Regions from separate parts of the Homo sapiens genome. Here region 1 is linked to region 2. Evidence: fine-mapped expression QTL. A gene starts in region 2. The other region holds a variant in brackets. All regions are shown on one strand. Distances are from middle to middle.

The links. PIP is the estimated chance that this variant, and not a neighbour inherited with it, causes the effect. A credible set is the group of variants that fine-mapping cannot tell apart.
Region 1: its variant is the best candidate, but not a certain one, in a credible set for the expression of SREBF2 in fibroblasts (GTEx, PIP 0.64).

The regions. Positions count from the first base shown.
Region 1 is chr22:41,786,932-41,789,839 of GRCh38, reverse strand. The region is part of intron 26 of MEI1 (meiotic double-stranded break formation protein 1); the gene reads right to left. Among named protein-coding and RNA genes, the nearest start is that of CCDC134, 12 kb to the left of the region's middle. The variant G/A (reference allele first, on the strand shown) is at 1,701.
Region 2 is chr22:41,831,641-41,834,548 of GRCh38, reverse strand. It overlaps SREBF2 (sterol regulatory element binding transcription factor 2), which reads right to left and starts at 1,444. Exons shown (of 19, transcript NM_004599.4): 1 at 1,191-1,444. The coding sequence starts at 1,278. It overlaps CCDC134 (coiled-coil domain containing 134), which reads right to left. Exons shown (of 7, transcript NM_024821.5): 7 at 2,385-2,908. It overlaps SREBF2-AS1 (SREBF2 antisense RNA 1), which reads left to right. Exons shown (of 2, transcript NR_157279.2): 1 at 1-106; 2 at 569-2,908. RefSeq lists silencers at 751-1,140, 1,201-1,540 and enhancers at 1,319-1,975, 1,581-2,090.

The sequences.
Region 1 (2,908 bases), 45 kb after region 2:
AGGGTAGGCCCAGCACCTTCTACAGGGGGAGTCATGAGCTTCTCAGGTTGGGTTCCCCTTCCCAGGGACTGTTGAGGACAGACAGTCAAAAACTACCAGAGAGACAAATACAGGATTCCACTTACATGAGGTCCCTACAGTAGTCAAATTCATAGAGATAGCAAGTAAAATGGTAGATGCCAGGGGCTGGGGGAGGGGACTGGGGAATTGTTTAATGGGTACAGAGTTTCAGTTTGGGAAGATGAAAAGATCTAGAGATGGATGATGGTGAAAGTTGCACAACAATGTGAATGTACTTAATGCCACTGACCCATATACTTAAAATGATTAAAATACTAAATTGTATGTTATATATAGTTTACTACAATTAAAACAAGGCCAGGTGCAGTGACTCACACCTGTAATCCTAGCACTTTGTGAGGCCAAAGCCAGAGGATTGCTTGAGCCCAGGAGGTCAAGACCAGCCTGGACAACATAGTGAGATATCATCTCTACGAAAGTATTTTATTTTTTATTTATTTATTTTTTGAGATGGAGTCTTGCTCTGTCACCCAGGCTGGAGTGCACTGGCATGATCTTGGCTCACTGCAACCTCCACCTCCCGGGTTCAAGTGATTCTCCTGCCTTGGCCTCCCAAGTAGCTGGGATTACAGGTGCGCGCCACCACGCCCGGCTAATTTTTTTGTATTTTTAGTAGAGATGAGGTTTCACCCTGTTGGCCAGGCTGGCCTCAAATTCCTGACAAGTGATCCGCCCGTCTTGGCTCCCAAAGTGCTGAGATTACAGGCATGAGCCACTGCGCCTGGCCTTACTACCAATACAAAAGTATTTTAAAATTAGCTGGGCATGGTGGTGTATACCCGTAGTCCCAGCTATTCAGGAGGTTGAGATGGGAGGATCACTTAAGCTCAGCAGGTTAAGGTGGCAGTGAGCCATGATCATGCCACTGTACTCTAGCTTGGGCGACAGCAAGACCCTATCTCAAAAATAAAAATAAACAGTTGCCAGAGGCAGAGTTGAATGTCACAGGCCAGGGAGACACCTAGGCTCTTGGGCATGAGAGGCGAATGGTGAAAGTGCTATACAATACTTCACTGGTGGCTGGGCACGTTGGCTCACACCTGTAATCCCAGCACTTTGGGAGGCCGAGGTGGGCAGATCACCTAAGGTTGGGAGTTTGAGACCAGCCTGGCCAACATGGTGAAACCCTGTCTCTACTAAAAATACAAAAATTAGCCAGGCATGGTGGCACACACCTGTAATCCCAACTACTCAGGAAGCTGAGGCAGAAGAATCGCTTAAACCCAGGAGGTGGAGGTTGCAGTGAGCTGGGATCATACCACTGCACTGCAGCCTGGGTGACAGAGCAAGACTATGTCTCAAAAAAAACAAAACAAAACCCACAAACCTCACTGGCACCCCACCCTAGTGTTTAGGCTATTGGTTTGAAGAAGGCTTTTTCATCACTCAAGGCCCAGTTCAAATGCTACCTCTCCTGTGCAGCCTTCCAATACAGGTTGAGGCTGGGCACGCCTGTAATCCCAGCACTTTGGGATGCCGAGGCAGGTGGATCACTTGAGGTCACGAGTTCGAGACCAGCCTGGCCAACATGGTGAAACCTCATGTCTACTAAAAATACAAAATTAGCCAGGCATTGTGGTGCGTACCTGTAGTCCCAGGTACTTGGGAGGCTGAGGCAG[G/A]AGAATCACTTAACTCAGGAGGCAGAGGTTGCAGTGAGCTGGGATTGCACCACTGCACTCCAGCCTGGGTGACAGAGCGAGACTCCATCTCAAAAACAAACAAAAAAACAAATACTGGTTGAGTATCTGTAATTAAAAATTTGAAATCTGAAATATCCCCATATCCAAAACTTTTGAGCACCAACATGATGCTCAAAGCAGATGCTCATTGGGCATTTCGGATTTTGGACTTTTGTATTAGGAATGCTCAACTGCTAATAGGTCATTTTGGTATTAGATGTAGTTATTTGTGTTTCCTATAATCTGTGAGTGCCTAAATGGCTGGGATCATGTAATGTTAATTTCTGTGGTTTTCATCCATTCAACAAACATTCCCAGATGCCAACTTTGTGCCAAGCTCTGTGCTGGGTATTGGGAAATCATTCCCCCCACACCTCCTGTTCTGAATCTTAAAACAGGAACATCAGCGCTTTTAGAAACATTAGGGAGAAAGCATTTCCCTAACTGGCCCTCCTCACCCAAGGAAGGTTTTATCTAGCAGGCAAGATACTAGCTTAAGATCTACTGTGCCATCAGGGCAGGATTAAGGTATTAAAGATTATGCTCCCATGAACTTAAACTCTTAAGATCCTGGCCAGCTGGCTAAGTGTCCATAATGCAAACACAGTTTTTCCCGCCTGTGGACCCCTGGTCTGGCAAGAAGGAGGGTGTTTTAAAAAGCTCATTTTGGACAGATATGATTAAGCAAGTATAATAAAATGTTATTAGTAGAATCTAGGTGTTGGGTGTATGAATGTTCACTGTAAAACTCTCTCATTGCTGTATGTTTGAAAAACTGCAGGAAAAAAAAAGCCCATTCTGTTCCAGAGTCCCAGCCAATATTCTACTATGATGTTTACCAGCAATAAAGCTTATGTTTTGGTTCTCATCTGATTCCTGCATTCTAAATTAGCTTTAAACCCACAAGGGGAAGGACACACAAAGATTAACCAGACCCAGACTCTGCCCTTGAGTATATCACAGCCTGGTTGGGGGAATAGTGATATGAAAATGGAAACTTGAAACAGAGAGCTAAGTGCTATAATAGGATAGATGTTTGATCCCTAAAGAGCACAGAGCCTTGTGCAAGGATGTGCCACAGGACAAGACTCAACAACCGCTAACTCAGCATAGGGCCCACTCCTGGGACATCTTCCTGGGGCCCCCAG
Region 2 (2,908 bases):
GTAGCCATCATACATGCCTGCAAGGCTGTAGTGAGATCCTGGACATGAAAGCATTCTGAAAACTGAAAAGTACAATGCACCTGTGTTTCTGCCTAAGCTCTCTAAGGTGAGTGGCCTTAGATAAGTCAACATCTCCTGGCCTCGGCTTCTTTAATTACCGTATTAAAATAGAGGTAATAAGAGTATCTCACAGGATTGTTGTGAGGAAGAAGTGAAATAATACAAAGCATTTTGGGGCCTAAACATAAGAGTGCAACTATCCAGTTAATAAGATTACTAGCCTAGTCAACTGGACTCTTTCTTGAAAGGAGGGGTATAAAAAAACCAATACTGGCCAAGGAACTGCAAGAACTAGGCTCTAACCAGCTGGGTGACCTTGAGCAAGCCGCTGACCCTCTCCAAATCGTTGTTCCCGTGGTCGCAAAATTAGTATTTTAAGAGTGGATCCCTGGGCTCCTACCAGCTCTTCCACTCCGCTGTTAAGGCGCTGGAACAAAGGCCACCCGCTCCCCAGCCCGTACCCGAGGGGCCACAACTCAAAATTTCTTCTGCTCAATTCCCCTTGCAGCGTGACAGCAGGAGCGCCCGGGTCTCCATCCCGGAGAGATGTGTCCACACTCCGCCGCCACTGCTCTCTTCATCAGCAACTTGCTTCTGCAGTCGCTGCCCAAAGTTTCGCGGAGCACCCGGCGACCTGGCCGTCGGTCAATCCTGAGAAGCCCAGGGATTCGGGGCGCGGAGACTGGGGGCTGGGCCCCGGGAATCCCAAAGACGTCCCCGCGGCCAGGAAGGGAGTGACAGGTGCGACGCGCGGTCGCGGGCGGCGGGAGAGCGGACCACGGAAACCGCGTGTGGGCGCGCGAGGGAGGCGGCGGCCACGCGCTCTCCTTAGGCCGCTCCCTGAGACGCCCCCGCGACGTCCCTAGCCCCGCGCTCTGGAACCCGCGACCCTCGCGCCGCTTTCGGCCCCGCGGCGCCCCAGATCCCACGGCCTCCCGGAGCGGCGCAGCTGGGTCGGGCTCACGCTCGCAGCGCCGGAAGGGTTGAGGACCGCCGGGGGCACCGTGCGCACGGGGTTCTTCCCGCGCGAACCGGGGCTGTCGGGGGGTGGGCGCACGCGCACCCGGGCGCGCCGCCGTAACCCCTTCCTCCCCGCGCGGCCCCCGCACTCCCACCCACCCACCACTCACCGTCGATGTCTCCCAGGGTCAGCTCGTCGCCCAGCTCCGTGAGGGTCTCCATGGTCTCCAGACCACCCAGCTCGCCGCTGTCGTCCATCGCCCGGCTCAGCGCAGAAGCCCCCCCTGCCGTCCCGCTCAGGGAGACGCGGGGGCGGTGCCGTCGCCACCGCCCATGACACCCGACAACCCCCGCCCGGCACCGCCTCACCGACGGGTGCCACCCGCCGCCATGTTTGCGTTGCGCCCGGGCGCCGCACAGAAAGGGCGGGGCGGGATTCCCCCGCCCCAGCCCGCGCCCCCTGCGGCCCCGCCTCCAGGCCGCGCGCCCCCCTGTTTGTTGTCAATGGGACCAGGCTCATCTCAGCCAATGGGCGAGCGAAGCGGTGCGTGGGGTGATGGCGCGTCATCGATCAGCAGCTCAGATTTGCATAGTGAGGTCCCTCCCCCCGCGGCCTCGGAGCGAATGCCTGGAGTAGCCGTCCGGTCATCATCTTAACCTTCTCCGCCTTGTTTAAAGGAGCCGCTGCCTTCTCCGTTGGATCTGCGCCACACGCAAGTCCGTCCACTGGCCTGGGAGTGAAGGGTTAACAGGCCACCCTCCACCTGCGACCGCTGGCCGCCTCCAGGCCTGGCTGGGAGCACATTACGTCATCTTCCCAGCTGCCTACCCCCGCCCTGCCCGCCTGAGAAAGCCAGCGGAGTCAAACCTGGACCCCAGCGCTCGGGACGGGAGTCCGGGTCATCCAAGTCCCGCTTCTCCCAGCCTCCTTACAAAGGCGGGCACGGAGGCTTGACAAGGTTGCAGATTGTCCCAGGGCGGTCAGGATTTTACGTCTTCTGCTTTGCACCCGCCGTGACCTCGCGCTTACTCCAGTGGTCCTCAATCTCTGGCACCTCGGAACCACTGAGGACCTGAAAACCACGCCAGTGCCCAGGCCCACCGACGGCCTCCTGAGAGGGGGGCCCCGGGCACGAGTTTTTTGAAAAAGTTCCACCGGGATTCTGAAGTGCAGCCCACCCACTCCTTCAAGCACCTCACTGCCCCATCTTGCAGCTGGTCGTGTTGTAAACTTCTAGGAATTTATCCAAAGGAATAAAAATTACAAGTGCTTAAAGAAGTGCTGTAACTAGGAAGAAGTGAGAATAAGGAAATGAATATGTAAATTACATCCACACGATGGAATACCATGGGATCATTAAAAATTACGCACACAAATGTATATTTATTAGCAAGAAAAGGCGTTCACAATATATTGATAAAAGGGAAAAGTTGAAGTTTCCTGCCAGTTTGTGAGAGGCAGCTGTTGCTTAGTGATCAATAATTAAGAACACACAGGCTGTGTGGAGGCAGACACATGGATCCACTAATTCACTGTGACCTTGGGTTAATTGTTCTAAGCCTCAGTTTAGTCATCTCTAAAATGGGGATAAAATAGCATCCCTCATAGCTGTGGTTAAGTGAGATTATTTGCACATTCAATTGACAATATTTATTGAACATCTCTGTGGCAGGGAAACAAATGGTTCCTGCCCTCTGAGAGCTTCCAGTCTAGCAAAAAAAAAAATCAGAAATCCCACACCCGTATTAAACATAAAAATAAATTACAGATGATGGTACAAGTGATCAAGGAAAGGTAATGGATGTGATGAAACTAACAAGGGCCCTGACTTGTGCTGTCAAGAAGCCTCTGAAGAAGTGACATTTAAGATGAAACCTAAAATTATGA